7 linked regions of the Homo sapiens genome follow. The protein of the gene in region 4 interacts with the protein of the main gene of each other region in a pairwise test. Each region holds a gene or a part of one and is shown on either strand. Other genes may lie near its edges.

Region 1 (3,500 bases), on a different chromosome or scaffold from region 4:
GCTAAGGCTCTGGGCATCTTCATGAGTAGGTGTAGCTACAGACCAACAGGCAGTGAAGAAAGTTCATAGCACTGAAACCAAAGATGGCATGCAGGTGACTGTGAGGAGTCTGTATCAAGAAGGTCAGAAGGTCTGGTTTGGAGTTCTGGTGCTGTGACCTTGGACAAGTTACTTATCTTCATTGACTATCCATTTTCTCACATTGTAAATAGTTAATAAGGTCACCTACATCATGAGATTATTCTAAGAACTGAACAAAATCAAGTATGTAAAAAACCTTATAAATGTTAAAAAGTTTTGCAAGTGGGCTGGGCACAGTGGCTCACACCTGTAATTCCAGCACTTTGGGAGGCTGAGGTGTGAGGACCATCTGAGGTCAGGAGTTTGAGAATAGCCCGGCCAACAAGGTGAAACCCTGGCTCTACTAAAAATACAAAAATTAGCCAGGGTGGTGGTGCACGCTTGTAATCCCAGCTACTCGGGAGGCTGAGGCATGAGAATTGCTTGAACCCGGGAGGCGGAGGTTGCAGTGAGCCGACGAGATTGTGCCACTACACTCCAGCCTGGGCAACAGAGTGAGATTCCATCTCAAAAAAAAAAGTTTTGCCAAGTGAAAACATCTTTTCTCTCTTCTTTGTGCTTATTGAGGAAAATACAATGCCCCATCCAAATCACAGCTTGATTTGAGAATAGTTTCTTGTGTTGGTTTTTTGAAGTGGAGGAGCAAAAAGTGCCAATGTAGCATAGCTAAAATTAACTCTGAGATATATTATTAAAAGCATTTGCAGCTTATTCAAGAAATGTGTTATGAATGTTAAAAACTGCAACACAATTCTCACTCACAGTGCAGCCCTCTGGGCATTATTAGATGACTCTTCATTCTCCCATATGGGAATTATGCACCTTCTAAATAATGGCAAATTTTTAAACGTGGGTGGGCTTTGCTCAGCTTTGCTCCTGAACTATTACACCACCCTAACACTATCATGTGGCATATGCTAAGAGAATGCAAAGTCATTTAAATGGTAGCATCATAAACATATAATGGAAATATAAGGTTCCCAGGAAAACAAAAATGAAGCAAAATGGAAGTTTCTAAAGCTAAACAGATGTATTTCTGAATTATTTGTTTCTACAGTTTAATTCACATTGTTGCTCCCTATCAAGTATGGAAAAATAAGTTTTAACCTAAGATATATTTAAGAAATCAGTAAAACCAGAGATTGACAAAGTACAGTTTGCAAGTCTAATTTGGACCACTGCCTGTTTTTGTTTGGCCTGTGAATAGTTTTTTACATTTTTAAATGATTAGAAAAAAAGAACAAAAGAAGGATATTTTCTGACATTTCAAAATTATATACAATTCAAATTTCAGTGTCCATAAATAGTCTTACTGGAACACAGCCATGCTCATTCATTTATAGATTGTCTATGGCTGATTTTCCACTACAACAACAGAGTCAAGTAGCTGTAATGAGACCACAAAGCCTGCAAAAATAATTACTCTCTGGCACTTTACAGAAAAAGTTTGCCAACTTCTGAGTAGAGAACATATGAAGGCTAATTCTATAAATACCATCCAATATGCTTATTAATAATGATCGGTTTCTGATAGGAAATCAACCTTATTAGTTTCCACAAAGAATATTAAACTTATAATCGTTCATTCACACAACAATTAGTAAATGCCTATTATGTGCCAGGCATTTTTCCAGTGCTAGAAAAATTCTTACACTCTTGGAGTTTACATTCTAATAGCGGAAGACGAAAACAAAATTACTAAGTAAAAGATGCACAATAGATGGAGTTAAGTGCTGTGAAAAAAAATTAAACAGGAAGGAATGGAGCTGGGGATGAGGGTGTGGGGTGAGCAAAGAGAAGTATCTCAGTTTAGAATAGGAAAATCAGAGAAGACCTTCACTGACAATACTTGAGTTGAGACCTAAATAAGGTGAGAGTAATCATGCAGGTATCTTAGGAAAACACATTCATGAGAAAGGGAACAGCAAATGCAAAGGCCATAACACAGAGAGCAGCCCTAGCGTGTTTGAGAAACAGCAAGAATATCTGGAGCAGCAGAAAATAGATGAGAGCTGTAACTGGGATGTGGATCAATTGGGGCCTTTAAGCCACTGTAAAGAAAGACTTAGGGTTTTCCTCTAAATGGGATAATACTTACATATGAGGTACAACAGACTTACTCTCCTAAAGCCCGTGTACAGAACCATATATTTGCTTTACGTGAAACTAGACCTACTGTATTAATAAAGTTTGATTTCTATTTAAAATGTTTTAGAGGGCTGGACATCAGCTTAGTTCTTTACTTTTACCTTAGAAGATATACAAGTCTCTTTTAACCCACACTTTCATGAGGTCCCATTTCCCTTTCCAAATTATTGTTTCACAGCTAACCTTCTATGACTGTAGCCTAATTTCAGATATTCCTCTTTCTTTTCCATCTACTTCTTACTTATCCCTCTGCAACAAAACTTTAATTCTAATTATTGTTTAGAAACTGTTTTCTAAAAACAATGACTTTCCTCTAGTCAAGTTCAGTGGTCTCATCTGAAACTTCATAAGGAAATTCTCTCTCCTATAGGGAGAATTGCTAACCACTCCATGTACCGTTTTAATCATTTTACCTTGGCTTCTATGCCTCCCTCTGTCTAACTCAAAACCCAGTGAAGTCTTAGTCTGGATTGCTGATTTCTCCTTCTTCCCCATCTATTATGGCCACCCTAATGTTTAAGTCTGGACTGCACTGCTCTTTCTCTCAAATGCATTTGTTACTGTTGTTGTTCACTTGGTTTTAAACAACTTCCTTCCTGTAACTGACTCCAAAATACACTGTTCCAGTCCCATATGTTCAGTTTTCTAGAAGTCATCTCTCTATCCTAATATGTGCTGCCACTATTTGAAACTAAACATTTGTAAAAGGAGATCATCTTCCCAAGAAACTTTAATTATTCAATTTTTCTAAGGCTTCCACACACAATTTAAAGTAACTTCATCTCTTTAAGTTGTATATAATTTATTACCACATTCTGACAAGACTTGTTAACTGAATTCCTATAATACTTATCATTCGTGTTCACAGTTTCCTTTTTGATACAAATTCTGATCATCTTAAAAGCCTCAGGCCAGACATCATCTTGTTGCTGGCTTTTCCCCCATTTCCAGCCATCCTTGGAATAACAGAACCTTCAGATTCAAGAAATTTAATTTCTATCCAATTAAGTAATCATTTCTAAAATATTTCTAAAAGATGATCACCAGCCTCTGCTTGAATACAAGCATGTAGCATGGTGCCGGATAAATCTTGAGAATTTAATAAATGCTTGGAGTTATTATTGTTCTGCTCTTAAGAGTACAGACTCTGGAACCAGACCACCTGGATTTCAATCCCAACTCCACCATTTACTCAATGTGTAGTCTTGGGCAAGGTACTAAACTTCCCTGTCGTAAAAGAGATGTAATAACAGTGCCTACTTCATAGGATT
Region 2 (3,500 bases), on a different chromosome or scaffold from region 4:
CTTATATATCGTGGTCAGTAGGAGGGTCAATGTCAGCCAAATAGGTTAATTCAACTGTCAAAGCCAATGGGCAGGATATCCTATCAAGAATCATACATTCTACTAAAAGGTATTTCCTATTATCCAATCATGCATTATATCGTATCTACAACTGAATGCAAGCATACACCAAAGAGCACCATTCAATATGGTGATAGCACTGAACAAAGAGACTCCATCTGGTGTGCTACTGTATTTAATTTTTTTTTTTTTTTTTTTTTTTGAGATGGAGTCTTGCTCTGTCACTCAGGCTGGAGTGCAGTGGTGCGATCTCGGCTCACTGCAACCTCCGCCTCCCAGCTTCAAGCAATTCTCTGCCTCAGCCTTCTGAGTAGCTGGGATTACAGGCATCTGCCACCATGCCCAGCTAATTTTTGTATTTTTAGTAGAGATGGGGTTTCATCATCTTGGCCAGGCTGGTCTTGAACTCCTGACCTCGTGATCCATCTGCCTCGGCCTCCTAAAGTGCTGGGATTACAGGCGTGAGCCACCGTGCCCGGCCAGCCACTGTATCTTGTAAGAGTCACAAGAACAAATGCTCTTGCCTCTCAAAATATTTCTCAGACACAGAGAATAAATAATTTCAAATTTTAAAAAGTAGAGAGCTAATCTGATTTTAGGGCTTAAAATTAGAGTTAGTAATTTACAAGCTTCGGAGGTAATGTGTAGGTCTTTTCTGTTACCATGATTTTTCTTATGGTCCCTTCCAATACTCTTAATTTTTCTCACTCAATAGCTTTCTTTTGACTTTGAGAAGGGAGTGAGGAAAATAGAAGAATATGAAGTATTGCACCTCCTTTGATGGCCACATCAACTGGCCAGATGTATTTCTAACACAAAAGCATTATCCATTCATAAGCAGACATGCACACAAATAACTTGTACCTGAGTCTAAAGGAGGGGTCAGCAAACTTTTTCTATAAAGAGTCAGATAGTCAGTATTTTCTTCTCTTATCTTCTGTGTCACAACTACTCAACTCTGATACTGTGGTGCAAAAGCAGCTGCAGACAATGTATAAATGAATGAATCTGCTATGTTCTGATACAACTTCAGGGACAGGAAATCTGAATTTCATATAATTTTTACATGTCAGAAATGTTATTCTACTTTTGATTTTTTTCCCCAGTCACTTAAAACTTGAAAACCATTCTTAGCTCATACACTGGACAAAATTAGGCAGCGGGCCAGATTTGGCCCTTGGGCCATCATTTGCTAACCCCGTTCTAAAGATTCAGTTGATAATCAGCTTAGTCCCAGTTTCTTCAAAATTGTTTCTTCTGTGACACAGTCAATTATCATCATATCCCGAGGGGCATAATGTGCTAAGGACTGTATAATGCAGTTACTCGTTGGAAATATATCTTATGCAGAGATGATTGTCTAATTGGCAAGCTCCCATTGCCTTCATGAAGTATTTACCAGGGGACTGCAAGTTCTTTCCAGATTTGTGTTCTTATCTGATTCATGATAGTGGTGTATAATTGCTGGGCAAGGAAACAGTTGTATTTAAATGACGATCAAAGCTACTATGCTCTAACACTGTACAATATTAATGATTCTCAACCAGTTACATACACTATTGAAAAATACCAATTCAATTAATCAAAATCCTTAATTAAACATAAAGAGCCTCTACCTGCTAAGAAAAAAAATAAATAAAAAACAAGAGGAAAGGATGGTAGACTGTATGTTAATATGCGGTCATCATTTAAAATATTTTTGTCATCCCGATTCGGTAGCCACATAGTCTACTTCTCACCTCTTTCATGAGCAACAGATACTGCACAACAGCTACTGACCTTCATAATCCTGAAGAAGTTCAGCATCCTAAATGTCTGGGAAAGATTAGATGCTGGGTACTGTGTTTCCTCCTTTTTTTTTTTTTTTTTTTTTTTTTTTCAGATGGAGTCTCGCTGTGTCGCCAGGCTGGAGTGCAGTGGCAAGATCTCACTGCAACCTCTGCCTCCCGGGTTCAAGCGATTCTCCTGCCTCAGCCTCCTGAGTAGCTGGGACTACAGGCGTGTGCCACCATGCCCAGCTAATTTTTGTATTTTTAGTAGAGACAGGGTTTCACCATGTTGGCTGTGATGGTCTCCATCTTTTGACCTCGTGATCCACCTGCCTCGGCCTCCCAAAGAGCTGGGATTACAGGCGTGAGCCACCACACCCGGCCATGTTTACTTCTAAACAGAAAAGTGAACTAACACTTCTCATCTCCAATTTTAAGCAATGATTTCATTGTTTTTATAAAAATGCTTATTATAAAAATTTAAGCAATGCTTTGCAATGAAGTCAGCAACAATGAAGCCAAATGCGTTGTTTATATCTGGTGGGTGAACAGCATTCCAGACAACTCTATATATGTATATGGAGAGATGAAAGAATAACTAGAATAATTTTGTAACTGTGGAATTAAAATAGCATGTAATTTTAAAAACTTTTATTTGACTATGGCACAGCAAAGAAATGAAAATCTGGGGAATTGCTGGGTTTTAGATACATGTTTCTTTACCCCCAGGAGAAGTTTTTGGATGATACTTCCGAATTTAAGGATGAAAAAATATGAAAAGAGGTTATGTTGAAATCATCATGCCTTTTTAAAAAAATGACATGATGGAAAGTATGGACTTTCTAAACTATTCCTTGTAATTTCATTACTATAAAAGTATACTTTTTATAATAAAAAATCAATTACTACAAAAATATTAGATAATAAAGTAAAAGCCACTTGCCTAGCCTTCTCCCCTAAACCCCAGTCCTGTTCCTCAGATGTAACCACCACATATCCTCAGACATTTGCTTTGCACAAAATCAAGCTGTTTTAATACATAGTTTTGTATCTTGCTTTTTGTCCCTTTAGCAATATATCTTTGACAGCCTTCTATATCTGCAAAAATAGGTAATAATAATGGCTAACATTAACTAAGTACATGCTATGTGCCAGTCCTTGTTCTATATGTTTTACAAGTATCAAGCTACCTAATCCTCAGAACAACCGTGTAAGGCTAAAGGAGAGGCAAAGCCACTCTAACTCCAAAGCCTGTTCTCTAAACCAAGAGAGAAGGTGCCACAAGCCATGCCATTCACACTTTGCCAAAGAGAGAAATGAACTGTGTTTTGCCACCTCCCCATCATCAAAAGGAAAAGCAGAAAGCGCGAGAAGGGGCTAGAAGAGCTGACAAGAGGAGACGTTATTGCCGAATGGTCCAGCAATGGCCACGTGCAAGTGTTACTCAGCACACAGCTAGGGACCTGGATGCACTCTTTCTGAAATTTAGTGGAAGGGAGAGTGGATGGTAAAGAATTTCCAGGAACCTCATCTGCAGCAAAGAAAGGATTGTCCAGGGCTCAGCATCTTCATCTCCCTTGTTGTATTTGTGAAGAACTGACACTTACATTTCCCCTACTCCAAAACACAGACATGATAAGGGCCATGTATCCCTTCTCCCTGCCTCTACTT
Region 3 (3,500 bases), on a different chromosome or scaffold from region 4:
CCAACTGAGGGGAGGGGTCAAGACTCATGGGAAATAAATCTCAGGGAGGAATCTTGACTACCACAGAAAACCCAGAGGAGTATGCAAAGAGGGAAGTATAGGAGGTTATACATAGGTCAAGCAGTGTGAGGACTGAAAAAAAGACACTAGATTTGACAAGGCGGGCAGTCTCCGCTCATCTTTCCCAGAATATCCTAAGAAAATTGTAGGAGCTAAAGACAGAGATGGCTGGGCTAAGGAATAACTGGGAAGGGAGAAAATGGAGGCTGGAGGCATTTCAGAAGTCAGGATGCAAATGCATCCAAGTGGTAGGAAAGGTTTTATTTGGTCTTTCCTTTTAGGCTAATGAAGACATTTACCATGTTTATACAAAGAAAGGAATCACTAAGTGGTGATGTAAGGATAAAGTAAACACAGCCTGGCAGAGAAAGGAGGAGGGATCCAGTGCACAAGTAGAGTTCAGAAAAAGTGCCTCAGATACTAAAAGCAGGTGTTAAAAGAGCAGGTGAAAGCATGAATATATGTAGAGACAGAGGAGAAACGTTACCAAATTCATTTTAAATTAAAGTCTATACAGGGTCAAAAAATAGCACCTGAAAAATGAAAAATCCATTGGGAATATTCTACACACAGAGGTAGCAGAACCTTAATTCTGCTTACACCGCAAAACTAGCCAACACTTATTTAGTTTTAAAAAAATATTCTAAACACAGATGTAGCAGAACCTTAATTCGGCTTATACTTACTTATACTAAGTAGCCAACGCTTAATTAGTTTAAAGAAAAAAACCCATGCAGCTATTCTAACAGTCAGTGTTTAAACTGATTGGTGCTAATTAATCCAAAACTATGAGATTCTGTATTAAAAAAAAAAAAAATCTCCCCACCTATCATCCATCATCATCTAGAGACATCCTGGGTTCACATTTTGAACAGAAAAGAAATTGTGCCTTCAGGTTTTTCTTTCTCCCTGGTAAGTTCTATTTATGTGCTTATGATTTTAAAAATTTATTTTAATTTATATTTTTAAGTAAAAAAATTACTTTCTACCTTTTTTATTGAATTCTATGATTCTTGTGAGATTTCATAATGGCTGCTCATGAAAAATTTATAATACAGAAATATTTCCTTTTGAAATAATAATTTCTGAGGAATATTAATGGTACTCAGGGGTCTTTCTTTTTTTTTCTTCCTGAACCATCCTGAGCCCAAGTCTCACTTTGCTGTCTTCCCTATTTCCCAGTATCATTTAACTGAGAATTTTTGTTTTTATGGCATTCACACATTTTTCTATTTGACCGAAACGACTAGTTTATGTAAAGTTATGGTTTGGTTAGACATCGTGTAAGTAAAATGACAGACTGTTTCTTGCTAGGAAGATATTCAACATTTAGGGCAGGTTCTAGTTGTAAAACAAACTAGGTAAAGTTAATTACTTAGCATAATGATAATTCCATCATAATTAAGATTACTGCCCAACTTTAATCTGTAATAATAAAATATAATGATCTAATTAACCCTTACAATGTCTTTGGGAAATAAAAGGGCAAAATAAATAATTATATATCAAATGAAAACTCCAAAATATAACTACGTTTTGAAGCAAAGTGAAAGGTTTCTAAATGCCAGAATTACCAAAAGTCACGAAACACAAACAGCAAATAAAGTGTAATGTTACAGCTATAACAACTCACATAAAGTATGCAGAAACAACTAGGAAACACTGAGAATTTTAAATCTGATTAAGGAGCTAGTAGAGATTACCCAGCATTCAGCTCACCATTTGAAACCAGCCAAATGAATATGTGACAAGTCTCTTTTAAAAATCTTGCACTTTGAAAAGGAAATGTGTTATAAGTGTTACTCAATCTGGAAGTTGCAATGAGCTTGACAATGTCAAAACATGGATTTAGAGATTCTCAATGAACCTCTAATGTTTTACCTTCAATAAAATCTCTTTTCATAAAAGGAAAAAAAAGATTACCCAAATTCTACCATCATTTTGCCACTGGGATTATTTTCCTTTCAAACAATTTGGATGACCATTATTATTCCTGGACTTGAATGTACACGATTCTCATAAACCCAATGTCACACTAAGTAAAACTGCAAAAATCATATACGTCTTATAATTAAAGTTATTATTTCTTTCAAAAACCAAAGTTCTATTAGTAATACTTTTAATGTTCAATAAACATTTACTGAGTGTTTAATATAAGGTAGGCATTTTTCTACAAATTGGAGATTCAACAATAAAGCACAAAAATTTCTGTCCTTAGAAAGTTTATATTTCGGTATGGGAAAACAAACAGTAAATGAATAAATACTTAGTAAAGTCAGATCGTGGTGAGTGCTATGGACATACATAAAGCAGGGGGGAAAGGGAATGCTGATGTATATATTCAAGGACGACCTGCTCAGGTAACAGTGGAGTGACACCTGAAGGATGTAAGAGTGAACTATGCATTTTTCTGGGAGAACAACATTCAAGGCAGAGGGAATACCAAGTACAGACTGTCCAAGGCAAGTGCATACTTGATGCTTTGAGGAGCACTGAGGCCAAGGTGCCTGGAGCTGCATGAGGAGGTGGGATATGGTGGTACCTGAGGTAGGACAGGGAGTCTAGGCCTGCAACTTTTAAGGACTTTGACTGCTCTGAGTGAGATGAGAAGCCAATGAATGGTTTTGAGCAGATGAATGGTATGAGTTGACTTGTTTTAAAAATAATCATTCTGGCTACTTTATGGGGAACAGACTGTAGGAATGCAAGGATATAAGAAGAATTTTTGTAGATGACAGCTTCAATCCAGGGAAGAGATGATGGTGGCTTGGAATAGGGCGTTAATAGTAGAGGTCAAAAGAGGTGGTCAGCTTTAGATATATTGTGAAGGTAGGGTCTACCAGATTTGCTAATGGATTGGATATGGGTGCTAAAAGAAGAATCAAGGATGACTTCAGGGTTTTTGGCCTGAGCAACCAGAAGTATGGCATTGCCATTTACTGAGTTGGAGAAGACTGAAGGAGAAGCAAGTTTGGGAGGGAAGACCAAGAATTCAGTTTTGGATATGCTGAGTGTGAGCTTTAATTAGATTTCTAGATAGAGATGTCAAATAGGCAGTTTTATGAGATCACAGGGAGTGAGGACATCTAAGAAAGGCGAATGGTCCAAGGAAACTTCTTCCCCTTAAAAAATGAGTGTACAGCTAAAATCATAAGCAACTTTAAAGGCATAGATTGAAATAGTATAAAATGTAGAAAACCTCCCATACCTTGAAAGCTCACTTCAACTGCCTTCTGCCCAACTTAACATTTTAAAGACATTTTGATATACATACAAATCTAAGCTCCAAGAAGCCTAAGAAAACCCCTTAGGGGTTACCTTGGCCCATGGGCCTCAAAAATAAAAAATTAAGTTTTTCAATGGCATAGCCATTACAAGTTTTATCTTAAATTTGCTTGAAATTTAAGAATACATTAAAACATTATAAAAAGAAATATAAA
Region 4 (3,500 bases):
AGGGCCTGGGGGTCCTGGAAGGCCAGGCTGGCCTTGAGGACCAAGGGCACCAGGCTTCCCTGGGGGGCCATGAAGTCCTGCCACTCCGGGTTTCCCTATACCAGGGAACCCAGGGGGCCCTGGGAGGCCCGGCTCCCCTTTGGGGCCTGGAATCCCAGGTGGTCCAATGGGGCCACTAGGGCCCCCAATCCCTGGGATACCTGGGGGGCCCTGTAAACCCTGATCCCCTGGGATTCCTGGCTCTCCCTTAGGTCCGAGAAGCCCTGGAACACCAGGGAGTCCTGGTACACCTTTTTGCCCAGCTTCCCCCTTGGGCCCTATGGGACCTGGCAAACCCCTCATGCCAGGAGGCCCTACTTCACCAAGGAAACCTGGCTTTCCTGGGAAGCCTTGAAGCCCTGGCTCACCCTTGGGACCTGGTGGCCCCTGTGGCCCTACAATCCCACCTTCTCCTTTGGGTCCAGGAAAACCAATAGCACCTGGAGGGCCCATAGGACCTGGGATTCCAGGCAGGCCTGGCTCTCCTGGAGGACCCCCTATTCCTGGGGCACCTATTGGTCCTTTCTCCCCTCTTGGTCCAAGAGCCCCAGGAACACCTCCCATGCCCCGGTCACCTTTGGGTCCTGGGAAGCCTGGTTTCCCAATCCCTGGAAGGCCTGGGGGTCCTGGTAGCCCTGGCAGTCCTTGCTCCCCTTTGCCACCTGGAAATCCTGGCTGGCCTGGGATCCCATCCTGGCCTGGCTTTCCAATTCCGGGTATCCCAGGAGGTCCTTGAACCCCCGGTACCCCAATAGGGCCTTGTGGCCCAGGTTCTCCTGGAGCCCCTGGCTTTCCCAGGGGGCCCTGGGGCCCAGGGAAGCCTGTCACTCCTGGTTTGCCCACTCCTGGCAGTCCAACAGGGCCGGGAGGGCCGTGCATCCCTGGAGGCCCCTTTACACCTGGCGCACCTGGCATCCCGAAGCCCTTGTCTCCTTTAGGACCCCGAAGGCCTTGAGGTCCTGGTAGTCCTTTGGGTCCTCGATCACCCTTTGGTCCTGGTTGCCCTGGTAACCCTGGCCCACCTGGCTTCCCAATGCCAGGAAGTCCATGAGGCCCTGGAGGTCCTTGTGGTCCTGGGATCCCCATAGGCCCAATTTCCCCTTTCTGTCCAATTTCTCCTTTTGCCCCAGGCATGCCCATGGCTCCTGGCTTCCCTGGCATTCCAGGCATACCTGGCTTTCCAACTCCTGGATATCCCTGTGGCCCTGGTTTTCCTTTAATTCCAGGTATCCCATGACCTGGCAAACCAGGGGGCCCAGGTGGTCCTCTTGGGCCAGGCTCTCCACGGGGACCTTGTTCCCCTCGTAAACTGGCTAATGGTATTTCTACTGGGAAGAGAAGAGAGAGAAGGGGTATGGGGGGAGAGAGAGAGATTGATTAGTAGATTGTCTCTCACATCAATGAAGTACTGACAACCATTATTTAGTTCTGACACATTTGCCTAATACTTATCAAGAGAAAAGACTAGGAATAATATGCTCATCTTCTAGACCTTAAAAATCAGGCCTGGCATGGTGGCTCGTGCCTGTAATCCTACAACTTTGGGAGGCCCAGGCAGATGCATCACCTGAAGTCAGGAGTTCGAGACCAGCTTGGCCAACACAGTGAAACCGCGTCTCTACTAAAAATACAAAAATTAGCCGGGTGTGGTGGCACATGCCTGTAGTCCCAGCTACTTGGGAGGCTGAGGCAGGAGAATCACTTGAACCCAGGAGGCAGAGGTTGCAGTGAGCTGAGATCACACCACTGCACTCCAGCCTGGGTGAAAGAGCGAAACTCCATCTCCAAAAGGAAAAAAATAAATAAATAAGAAAGAAAAATCAAGCTGACAATTTTTTTTTATGTATTTGAGGTATTTTTTTGATAACTGATATGTGAAGCTGCTTGTATCAACATTGGTTAAGTAAAGAAGCTAAAAAGTAATGAAGAAGAAACATTTTTCCAAGTATAAAACTTGGAGATATTATGGTGTGTTTATTATAGTGAATTTGGAAGATTCAAAGATGTATAAAGAAAAATCAAATTTGCCTATAAGCCCACTACTCAGAGATAACCACTTAACATGTATATATATTTTCATCTCATTTGTTCTATCTGTGTGTGTGTGTGTGTGTGTGTATTTTAAACAATATTGGAGTTGTTATCCAAATTATAGTTGTATTTTATTTATGGGGTACAAAGTGATACTATGATTCATGAATACAATGTGGAATAATTAAATCAAGCTAAATATATCTATCACTTCAAATACTTATTTTTATCTCGTGAGAAATTTGAAATTTACTCTTTCAGTGATTTTGAAGTGTGTAATACATTATTATTAACTATACTCGCTATTCTATGCAATAGATATCCAAAAAACAACTTATTTCTCCTGCCTAACTGAGGCTTTAAACCTTTCATCATCATCTCTCCATTCTCTCCCTCCTGCCCCACCCCAAGGCCTCTGGTAACCACCATTCTCCTCTGGGTTTCTATGAGTTCGATTGTTTTAGATTCCACATTTAAGAGAGAATATGCAGGATTTTTCTTCCTGTGCCTGGCAAAGTTTTTAAATATAATAATTTATGGCCAAGATATTTCCTCTTATGCTTAAATACAGTATGATGTGAAATAGGAAAGAATAGAGTTATTTTTTGTGTGGTTCAATAACATCTTTCCACATCTCTCCTTTAGAATTAGTAGATTTGCTTAATTTCTTGAAGGTGCTGTGGGATTTCCTAAGCCTCAAATATTAGTTCATTAATTTAACAAATAATTTCTCATATACAAATCTGGCTTTTAAGTAGGAGAGATGAATAAGATATTTTAGAATGATAAACAGTATGGATGAAGTCGAGAGCTTGACTTAGGAACAAGAAGCTCTGCTTATCTTTCTGGTCTTGGCGTGAGATTGTGACTGGGTCCCTTAAGCTGTCAGCATCTCTGCTTGCCTATCTGTACAGCAAGAATAAGAATAATACAGCCACACTACAAGATTAGAGAATAGATGTGAAAGGTGTCACCGTTTCTCAAATTGTTATTGAAATACACAGCACGTGCTGTTATAATGAACATGCTGTGCCTTTCAGATGAACACAACTCTGGATCTCCCATGCTGCTGGGACTAATGGATAACATGGAGAAATGAAATATATGGTCCCAATATCTTCTTGGCATAATACTTATGTCACTAGTAGCACCTTAATCCTGACCATTGTACTTTTTGCTGAGCTACTGTCAGAGAATAAAATACAAACAGAGAACTCATTTCGAGATATGAGGATCCATCAGAGTAAGTACAAGAAGTGCCAAAGGCAAGGCAAGCCATTCAATAAAGGAAGGAAAAGAAATGTCTGAGATAATCTTCTAAGTATAATACTAGCTCCTAAAGAGAAGAAAGTCAGGAATACTTTCTTTACATGAATAGATATGATTATAGTACTATTCAGGCATGCTATTTCTAACCAGCGAATTGTGTA
Region 5 (3,500 bases), on a different chromosome or scaffold from region 4:
TGAAAACCTCATGCTAAGTGAAAGAAGCTGTCATAAATTACTACATGCTGCATGTTTCCATTTGTATGAAATGTCCAGAAGAGGCAAATAAAGACAGAAAGTAGACTAGTAGTTGCCTAGGGCTGGGAGGGAGTTAGGAGGAATGGAGAGTAATTGATAATGGGTAAAGGGTTTCTTCTGATGTATAAAAATATTCTAGAATTGACTGTGGTGATGGTTACTCCTATCTATTAAAATTACTGAATTGTGTACTTTTTTAAGAAGTAAATTGTATGGTATATAAATTATATCTCAAAGCTATTGTATTAAGGGAAAAAGCACTAAACACAGTGCCTTACACATATTAGCTAATATTATTATTTGTCAGTGGTATTATAGCATTTGTTAGAGATTGTCTGCTCTAATCCTTTTATGTTACAGATGAGGAAGTTGAGAGCCACATGGCTGACTTGACCAAGATTAAACGGCTAGTAAGTAGGAATAAGTACTGAAACAGAAACTTTACCCAATTGCAGTCCATATGTTTTCTGGGATCCCGGAGTTCCCTTTCAACAATGTAAAATACAAACTTAGGTCAAAAGTTCCCATGTCTGAGAAAACTCAAGCCAAATCAGTTCTCCTCCAAAGTTGACAGGATTTATGCTTTAAAAATAGAGATACAGAATTCTCTTTGGAAAGATCTACCAAATTCCTGTAAGAAACAGTCTACCCAAAGTAGGGGAAAGGCTATATGAAAAGTTACAAGGCACTTCTTAAAAATATATCTTAGGTTTTTAGGGAAAGGTAAACAGACAAGTTTCCAGACCCGTGGGTGGAATGGATGTAGCAGATTCACTGAGAGGCTCACAGCGCCGTACTAAAGGGAGTCTACTGCTTAAAGCCAATTCACATCCTTAAAAGGTCAAATGGAGAGAAATTAAACTTGGGAGAAGCATTTTAAGACTGTGCTGTTACAAAACCTCGGGCCACTTAACTGATTAATCATGGCAATGAGGGCAGGGACCAGAAAAGAGTCTTTAGAACCTGTCATCCCCACACAGAAGAGCAACTTTCAGGGAAACACCCTTATCTTTCCATTTTCAGACCCCGGGAGGTGTGAGGGTGGAAAGGCTAGGTAGAGAAGAGAGCAGAAAGGAGATGAGATGACACAACCAGGATTCTCCGAAGCTGGGCTTGAAGTCCTCAAGAAAAACTCCCATGAACAAGGAAGGAAGAGTGAAGAAAAAAACAGGGATACCTGGAACTGGACAAAAGTAAAAAGATAGAAGGATACTTTTTTTCCCCCAGAAGAAGTCTGTCACAAAAGCAAACCTGCAAATATACGATCAGTATAACACCCAAGAAAATGACACATGCGGCCAGGCATGGTGGCTCATGCCTGGAATCCCAGCACTTTGAGAAGCCGAGGCAGGTGGATCACCTGAGATCAGGAGTTCGAGGCCAACCTGACCAACATGGTGAAACCCCATCTTTACTAAAAATACAAAAATTAGCTGAGCATGGTGGCAGGCACCTGTAGTCCCAGCTACTTGGAAGGCTGAGACATGAGAATAGCTTGAACCCGGGAGGTGGAGGTTGCAGTGAGCCGAGATAGCACCATTGCACTCCAGCCTGGGAGAAAGAGCGATGCTCCGTCTCAAAAAAAAAAAAAAAAAAAAAAAAGAAAAGAAAAGAAAATGACACATGCCCCCAAGTGTGAGAATGCAAGAGGGAATCCCTGACCTATCCCTATCCAACCAGTTTTCTTGGCACACACCTTCCATTCTCTGAATGAGCCCAGATTAACTCACTGACCCCTGTGCCACGTATCTCCCACTCCATCACCCGCCCAGGCTCACTGCTTCCACTTGCGTCCCTTCATATCTCCCTACTGACCTCCACTTTTTTCTAACTTTGTCACCAAAGAAGTCACAGAAATAAATAGGAGGATTCAAAAAGAATAATTTCAGTACATTTAAAAAATTGTAGAATATAGGATTCTCATCTATGTTTATCACGTTCATTCATTTTTCAAATTTTCATTGTGGCACCATTTTATGACAGGCACTATGCTGGGGATGCTGGCGACTAGGGTAGGGAGTTAAAATGAGAGTGTCTACTTGGAAAGATGAACAGATAAATAATCACCGTGGTAAGTGCTGTGCTAGAGATATGCAGATGTCAAAAGACCTTAGAAGGTCTACAATCCACTTGGAGGGTAGGGAATATAGAAGGCATTTCAGTGAAATAGGGTGCCTTTGACAAATCATTAAGAATGAGTTCTACATTAAAAAGGGGAAGAGAGGGTGATAGCTGAGGAGGCAGCATAGGCAAGAACATCCAGCATGAAAGAACAGTGAAGGACATCAGGAACATCTTTCAGGAACATCAGGTAAAACAGACTTAGGGCCCAAGTCAAAGGAGCTAAAATAATACACCCTGGAAAGTGGTATGATCATTTCTGCATCTGCTCCAGAGAAACCTGCCAAAATATGATTAGCATAATACCCAAGAGAACATCACATTCCCCATGTGTGAAAATGCAAGAGGGAGTTATTTCTAATAGTTCATAAGCTCAGCAACAACAGAGTAGACACAAAAGCCACAGAATGTGCTTAGGCTTTACTTTAATGATATAGGGATATCACATATCATCAGCCTGTGGAGTACAGAGGTAGTTTACAAAGGATAAACCTTCATTGTTTGGAAAGGAAAGATCAGAGAGCTCTTTATGAAGTTTAAACAAAATCAGAGAAATAAAGAGATGTGGGAAAGAAAGAAAAAAAAGAAAGTACATTGAGGACAGTCCAATCTAACTGTGAACTCATAAGGGACAGCCAGTAAATTCAAAACAGCCTACTGTTTTTTGATTACTTGTGCTACTCTATTAAAATAGCCACAAACACAAAACTAGTCTACCTCTTTCTCTCCCCATTATTGGCCCTAACCCAAAAATAGTGGGAGTAAATGATTTAATAATTTATTTTCATGCTCCATTTTGTTCTTAAGTTAAAATTACTGTGGTTGGTGCCCCTCCTTTAGCTTCTGCTAAAGACTTTACATAATGAAAGCTCATGAAGTGTCTGGATTACTAACAGTTACTTATCCAAAAAGATGAGACATGGTTCATTGATTTGATTCTATTAGTTCTCTCTTGAAGATATTTTTCTCCTCCCTCTGTGAAGAAACATTTCTTTCTGTGTCATACAAGACGCGTCATTTTTGTAGTTTTAATTCCCTCTTGAGTCCTACAGTAATACTAAAATACTCACAGTGACTACAGTATCCTTTGCAGGGAAAAAATTGTAAATTAACCATTTAAATATAGTCACTAAGTTATGTGGCATTCACTGACTCAGAGTTGAAAAAGACTCCAAAATTCTTATCCAGTATTAGAGTATACAAGGACAAAAGGAGAGGCCAAACTAAGTCTAGGACGCACAATACAAAGAAGAAAATGAGAAGACCAAAGTTACAGTCTCAATACTATGACATGATACTAAACCATACAGTCAGTCAGC
Region 6 (2,982 bases), on a different chromosome or scaffold from region 4:
AGTCTCTCCCAGCAAGTGCACAAAAGGATGGCTGTGCCAAGAAGTCCACATCCCAATCCCATTTCCTGGCTGTGTGACTGGGGACAAAGCACTTGCCCTGTCTGAGCCCTGGCATCATCATCTATAAAAGATGGCTGAGGTATGGAAGTATCTTTGTGATGAGGGACTTGATACAAATGAATCAATAGCCACAACAATGTCAGCAAATACTTACATAGTGCTTACAATATATCAGTGTGGTTCTAGGCACTGCACGTGAATTCATTCATTTAATTCTCACAACACCATTCTGAAGTGAGCACCACTGTAAGCCCCAATTTAAAGGTGAGAAAACTAAGGCACAGAGAGGTTAGGTGACGTGCCCCAAAATCACACAGCTGGAAGGTAGCAGAGCTGAGATTTGAACCCAGACAGCCTGGCCCCAGAATCCAGGCTCTTTAACCATTTCACAAAGCTGCCCACAAATAGCCTAAAGCTTATCTGTCACCAATCAAGGGCTCTTCACAGGTATTATTTCTTTTAAGTATCCTAGCATCTCAGTGAACAGGCATTACTATTTCCACCCCCAATTTTCACAGACGAGAAAAGGGAGGTTGAAGGAGTTCCAAGGACATTCTGAAGGTGACATAGCCCCTGTCCTCTGCAACACCCCCCCACCACGCTATTCCCATACTCCAGTCCCCAACCCAGTTAGTTCCTCTGGGGCCATGCTGGGCTTGGGGCTCACCTGGAAAGTGGCAGCTGGTAGGTTAGAGATGGCAACATACTGGAGGTTATTCTGCAAGGTGTAGATGAGAGAGGGCACTGCGAGCTTGAGCGTGTCCACATACTGCACCAGGACAGCCTCATGGAGGAAGAGAACCAGGTGCTTCACGTTACCTAGGTGGGAGGAGGAGAGCCCTTCTTAGCACTGACAGCCATACATGGGGAACCCCTGAAGGCTGGGAACAGGCCTTGCTCCTGTGACTCCCCCATCCACCCTGCTGTCCAATCCCTGGAGGCTGGAATGAAGTATGTGATCTTGGTTTTCCCTAGAGTACAACCATGTTTCCAGCAAGCTTTTCTGAGACTCAGTTTAATGGCAGCAAAAGAATCAGCCATCCGTGTCTGCTAATCACAGAGCATGTCACTCATGTTAGAGCCTACCTCCCTGGCAGAGAGCCCCATTCAGGGAAAGCACTCAATACTCAATATATTTGTGTACAATGAAATAACCAGCATTAGGCCAGGTGCCGTGGCTCACGCCTGTAATCCCAGCACTTTGGGAGGCCAAGGCAGGTGGCTCATGAGGTTAGGAGTTCAAGACCAGCTGGGCCAACAACACTGAAACCCTATCTCTACTAAAAATACAAAAATTAGCCAGGTGTGGTGGCAAGCGACTGTAATCCCAGCTACTTGGGAGGCTGAGGCAGGAGAATTGCTTGAACCTGGGAGGTGGAGGTTGCAGTGAGCTGAGACCATGCCATTGCACTCCAGCCTGGGCAACAGAGTGAGACTCCATCTCAAAAAAAAAAAAAAAGAAAGAAAGAAATAACCATCATTAACTTGGAGCTTATGAAATAGAAGCCCTAGGAGCTGGGGTGGAGGGCTGTCTCCCACACAGAAGAGTTTAGTCTAGACTTTTTTTTTTTTTGGCACAGTGGCGCGATCTCGGCTCACTGCAAGCTCCACCTCCCAGGTTCAAGCCATTCTCCTGCCTCAGCCTCCCAAGTAGCTTGGACTACAGGCGCGTGCCACCACTCCCAGCTAATTTTTTGTATCTTTAGTAGAGATGGGGCTTCACCGTGTTAGCCACGATGGTCTTGATCTCCTGACCTCGTGATCCGCCTACCTCGGCCTCCCAAAGTTCTGGGATTACAGGTGTAAGCCACCACACCAGGCATAGTCTAGACTTTTAGACTTATCCTAGCTCCTCACTGACCCATGTGCCGTCTGAGGGCAGGGGCCATCTCCCCCTTGTTGCATCTTTCTGTCAGCCCTAGACACAGAGTTGCCTCTGCCACATGGATGAATGCAGGCTTGACCATTAAGCAGAAGTCCGCTTGGGACCTGCTCCAGTGAAAACATGATAATCGGGCTGGGCGCAGTGGCTCACGCCTGTAATCCCAACACTTTGGGAGGTTAAGGTGGGTGGATCACCTGAGGTCAGGAGTTCGAGACCAGGCTGGCCAACGTGGTGAAACCCCGTCTCTACTAAAAATACAAAAATTAGCCGGGTGTGGTGGCAGGCGCCTATAATCCCAGCTACTCAGGAGGCTGAGGCAGGAGAATCTTTTGAACCCGGGAGGCGGAGGTTGCAGTGAGCCAAGATCGTGCCATTGCACTCCAGCTCAGACAACAAGGGCAAAACTCCATTTCAAAACAAACAAACAAAAAACATGAGAATCATTTCCTATGTAACAAGGCCTTTGCAAAGCTCGCCCCACTTTTTGGCAGTTCATCTTTTTTTTTGGCGGGGCGGGGTGGGTGGGTGAGGAGTCTTGCTCTGTCGCCCAGGCTGGAGTGCAGTGGTGTGATCTTGGCTCACTGCAACCTCTGCCTCCCGGGTTCAAGCAATTCTCCTGCCTCAGCCTCCCTAGTAGCTGGGATTACAGGCACCTGCCACCGCGCCTGGATAATTTTTGTATTTTTAGTAGAGACGGGGTTTCACCATCTTGGCCAGGCTGGTCTCTAACTCCTGACCTTGTGATCCACCTGCCTCTCGGCCTCCCAAAGTGCTGGGATTACAGACGTGAGCAACCACGCCCAGCCAGCAGTTCATCTTTTAAGTCACAGCTGGGTGTCACTCCACAGGCAAAACTTCTTCAAACACTGAACAAGGTTGTCCCAGGAACTCCTACTGATGTTCATTCACCAAACCCTGTGCACTCCTGGTCTCCAAACTCGAATTCAGGGGAAAAAAATTCCGGGCAGGGGAGAGAGGGGTGCTGAAATTGTGGCTAAGAGATGAAGGCCTGTGATTAAGTCTGTGGCTATCTGTTA
Region 7 (3,500 bases), about 86 Mb from region 4:
TGTCCCCCTCCCCAGTAGCACTGGCAAATGCATCCTGATGCCTTGCTGTCCCTAACACCCCACCAACTCCCCCAGTCATGTCCATTCTCCCCGCAATCTGTCTCCACTCCCTCCCCACGGTCTCTACCCCTTCCTTCCATCTCTAGGCCCTGTCCCCACTCCAGTCTCAGCTCTGATCTCCACTGGAACAGCCCCGCCACCTCCCTGCCCACCACTCCTCCCCTTTCCCAGGGAACCCAGTCTGGCCTGAGAGCAGCTGGCCCCGACATGCCACGGCCCCACAGCCCGCCCCAGTTTCCCATGGCCAGAAAGGAAAGGTCTGGATTCCCAGCTGAGCCTGGCACTCAAGGCCCTGCAGGAGCCATCCCAACCCGACCCTCCCACAGGCCCTTAGGCCTGAACTCCCCCAAGGGCTCTTCTCCCCTCTCATCTTGCACAAGCCACTCAAATGCCACCTTCTCACCAGTCCTCATGCCTCCTCCCTCCTCCACCCTGGCCCAAGTCCCCAGTGCCTGTAGCCCCACTTGTGACCCAGTGGCCGTACCTGACTCTTATAGACAGCGTGCTCCCCAAAGTCACAGGCAAGAGCTCCTTCTCCGACTCCCAGCCTAAAGCGCAGCCCCATAGGGCAGTGACAGAGGGACAGCAGGACTCGTTACCACAGCAGTGGTCCCCAAGCCTGCCCCATTTCTAAAGGAACGCCTCCTCTGCACCCAGCCCCTCTAGGAACCAGGGGTTTATCAGCCAGCAAGACAGGTTCCCAGCGTCCTCACAGCACTGACACCCTCAGGGGTGGAGGGGCAGATAATAAACCCAAGAGCAAATCTGTAGAGAACTGAACGCCAGGCAGGCATGAGCCCCATGATGAAATAAATGAAGGGAATCAAGGAGACGGAAGGAGGACGTGGCAGTGTCAGGGGAGCCCGTGTCAGTCCGGCGGAAGAGGAGGGCTTCTCTGAGGAGGGCGTCAGGCAGGGAGTGGCAGGGCCAAGGGGCTGAGGCCGGACCAGCAGCAGAAAGGTGAAGGACAGAGAGGGCCCCCAGGGCTGAGCCACATCAGCACACGGGTGGTAACTGCAGAGCAACGGGCTTCCAGCCTGCTGTGAGGGCCTCTGGGCGTGCCTGTAAGCGCTGGAGCCTGGGACTCTCCAGTGCAAGGGACCCACCCAGCTGCCCACTGCGCTGAGACACGGGAGCCAGCAGGGAGCAGGTGAGAGAGCCCAGGGCAGTGAGCGAAGAGAGGCAGGAGATGGTGGCACAGGGGATCTATTTTGAAGGTAGGACCCACAGGATTTGCTGATGGATAGGATGCAGCGGACAGAAGACAGAAGTCCAGGAGCGCCTGGAAGGGGGAGTTGTGTGACCGAGGCAGGGAAGGCTGCGGTGGAGGGCCATGGACGGGCAGGGAGATGGAAGCCCATGCCCAGACCAGGCTCAGGGCCGGCGGAGTGCTAGGGAGCCTCTGGGGCCTCGAGGGCTGACGCCCCTGCCCTCACACTGAGGTGCCACCTCAGGAAGCTGGAGGACTCCGTAAAGCCACTGACATTAGGAATGGGCCCCTGGGAGAATCAGGGCCTTTACTCCCAGTCAGCAAAAGCAAGGACCCTCCAGACTGCAAGGGAGAGGCCCTCAGGTCCACTCTCAACAGTTCTTTCTGTTTGTTTTTAGAGACAGGGTCTCACTCTGTTGTCCAGGCTAGAGCACAGTTGTGTGATCATAGCTCATCGCAGCCTCAACCTCCCGAGCTCAAGCGATCTTCCCACCTCAGCCTTCTGAGTAGGTGGAACTACAGGCACACACCACTACACCCAGCTAATTTTTTTTAACAAGGGTCTCACTGTGTTGCCCAGATTGGTCTTGAACTCTTGACCTCAAGCGACCCTCCTGCCTCAGCCTCCTACAGTGCTGGGATTACAGGCATGAGCCACCGTGCCAGCTGACAGTGTCTTTTAAGAAAGGAAATCTTTGGCCAGGCGAGGTGGCTCACGCCTGTAATCCCAGCACTTTGGGAGGCCAAGACAGGCGGATCACTTGAGGTCAGGAGTTCGAGACCAGCCTGGCCAACGTGGTGAAACCCTGTCTCTACCAGAAATACAAAAATTAGCCAGGCATGATGGCGTGTGCCTGTAATCCCAGCAACTCAGGAGGATGAGGCAGGAGAACTGCTTGAACCCCGGAGGCGGAGGTTGGAGTGAGCCGAGATCGTGCCACTGCACTCCATCCTGGGGAACAGAGGGAGACCCCGTCTCAAAACAAAAGGAAATCTTTGGTGAACTGAGACCCAAGCTCCCTGCCCTCCTGCCTTCAGGTGCATCACACACCTAGGCATGAACGTTGTGTCCTGAGAGGACAGTACCCCAGCCACAGGACACAGGGCTGTCCTAGAACTTCTTCCAGAAGAACTTCCTTCCCAGCCCACCCTGCCCCACCACCCGGTCCACCAAGTCCATCCCCTTGCTCTGCTCACCGGCACAGCCCCCAGGGTGACCTGGCCCCTTGGCCCCCCAGGCCCCCAGCATCACATTCTGTCCATGCTTAAGCAATCCCAAACCTCAGGCTTGCCCATCTCCCCACTCCAGGCCCAGGGCAATGATAAAGAACATCAGGCCCAAGCCTGACTCTGCATTTTCCACATTTGCTGCGCAACCCCAGGCACGGCCCTGGCCCTCTCTGAGCCCTGGTTCTGCATCCACCCAGTGAACGTGTTCCACCATACCTCAGGTCATAGTCGGGGGCCCACCAGCATTATCTGGCCCATAAGTGCTTTCGTTTGGCTCACACAGTGGGTTTCTCATTTTAAATTGGTTACCAGCATGCATAAATTGAAAACGTTCACATAAAAATTCAGGTTTCCAACTCCTGTTTCAAGCCACAGAGCTCTGGCCACCCTGAGATGTCACATGGGGTGTGAGCTCCCAGGTTCCCCAAGTCGTCTGGGCCCCCCCAAATGCATGCAGCTCAGAGTATCCTGGTGCTGTCTGATGGTTGTATGTCCACTCAGGAGGGGAAAGGACCATCTGGGATGTGTCGAGAGGGAGTGGCCCACGTGGTGAGGGGGCCCAGGCCCCTTGGGGTGGCTCACCTGGGAGAATAGCAGACCTCACTGTCCTCACATCTCCACAGCTGCTCCCAATGGGGCGTGTATGTGTGGGGCGGGAGGTGGGGGCATGGAGGAGATGGCAGATGTCAGCTCCAAGTGGAGAACACTCCCTCCAGGGCAGGGACTGACCAGGCTGCTGGGAAGGAGTGAGCTCCCTATCTATCGCCAGAGATAAGCAAGCAGGGCTGGGGACACTCGTACAAGAGAGAAGCAGGAGGGCACAGTCTCTACACTGCAGGGTCACAGAATCAAACATGCCCCTCCTGGGAGCTCCAGCTGAGTTTTCCCACAACCCCGGCTTCTGCAGACAGCTCCCACCCCTCAGCAACCTGAAAAAAGAAGCCCCTGGAGATGGGGTGGGGAAGGAGGCCTGACCTCCCTGCGGGGGGACAGTCCCAGC

What was found.
Region 1: the proteins of COL8A1 (region 4) and NOTCH2NLA interact in binary tests that used the Homo sapiens proteins (3 or more experiments, as listed by UniProt).
Region 2: the proteins of COL8A1 (region 4) and CREB5 interact in binary tests that used the Homo sapiens proteins (3 or more experiments, as listed by UniProt).
Region 3: the proteins of COL8A1 (region 4) and REL interact in binary tests that used the Homo sapiens proteins (3 or more experiments, as listed by UniProt).
Region 5: the proteins of COL8A1 (region 4) and NOTCH2NLC interact in binary tests that used the Homo sapiens proteins (3 or more experiments, as listed by UniProt).
Region 6: the proteins of COL8A1 (region 4) and SLC35A2 interact in binary tests that used the Homo sapiens proteins (3 or more experiments, as listed by UniProt).
Region 7: the proteins of COL8A1 (region 4) and FBLN2 interact in binary tests that used the Homo sapiens proteins (3 or more experiments, as listed by UniProt).

The regions. Positions count from the first base shown.
Region 1 is NC_000001.11:146,166,522-146,170,021, forward strand, and holds part of NOTCH2NLA (notch homolog 2 N-terminal-like protein A), read right to left. Parts: intron 1-3,500.
Region 2 is NC_000007.14:28,800,518-28,804,017, reverse strand, and holds part of CREB5 (cyclic AMP-responsive element-binding protein 5), read right to left. Parts: intron 1-3,500. UniProt on the Homo sapiens protein: Binds to the cAMP response element and activates transcription.
Region 3 is NC_000002.12:60,923,074-60,926,573, reverse strand, and holds part of REL (proto-oncogene c-Rel), read right to left. Parts: 3' UTR 1-3,500. UniProt on the Homo sapiens protein: Proto-oncogene that may play a role in differentiation and lymphopoiesis.
Region 4 is NC_000003.12:99,792,094-99,795,593, reverse strand, and holds part of COL8A1 (collagen alpha-1(VIII) chain precursor), read right to left. Parts: intron 1,365-3,500; coding exon 1-1,364. UniProt on the Homo sapiens protein: Macromolecular component of the subendothelium. Major component of the Descemet's membrane (basement membrane) of corneal endothelial cells. Also a component of the endothelia of blood vessels.
Region 5 is NC_000001.11:149,467,121-149,470,620, reverse strand, and holds part of NOTCH2NLC (notch homolog 2 N-terminal-like protein C), read right to left. Parts: 3' UTR 1-3,500. UniProt on the Homo sapiens protein: Human-specific protein that promotes neural progenitor proliferation and evolutionary expansion of the brain neocortex by regulating the Notch signaling pathway.
Region 6 is NC_000023.11:48,905,665-48,908,646, forward strand, and holds part of SLC35A2 (UDP-galactose translocator), read right to left. Parts: intron 880-2,982; coding exon 728-879; intron 1-727. UniProt on the Homo sapiens protein: Transports uridine diphosphate galactose (UDP-galactose) from the cytosol into the Golgi apparatus, functioning as an antiporter that exchanges UDP-galactose for UMP.
Region 7 is NC_000003.12:13,566,125-13,569,624, reverse strand, and holds part of FBLN2 (fibulin-2 isoform a precursor), read right to left. Parts: intron 886-3,500; exon of another isoform or gene 545-885; intron 1-544. UniProt on the Homo sapiens protein: Its binding to fibronectin and some other ligands is calcium dependent. May act as an adapter that mediates the interaction between FBN1 and ELN.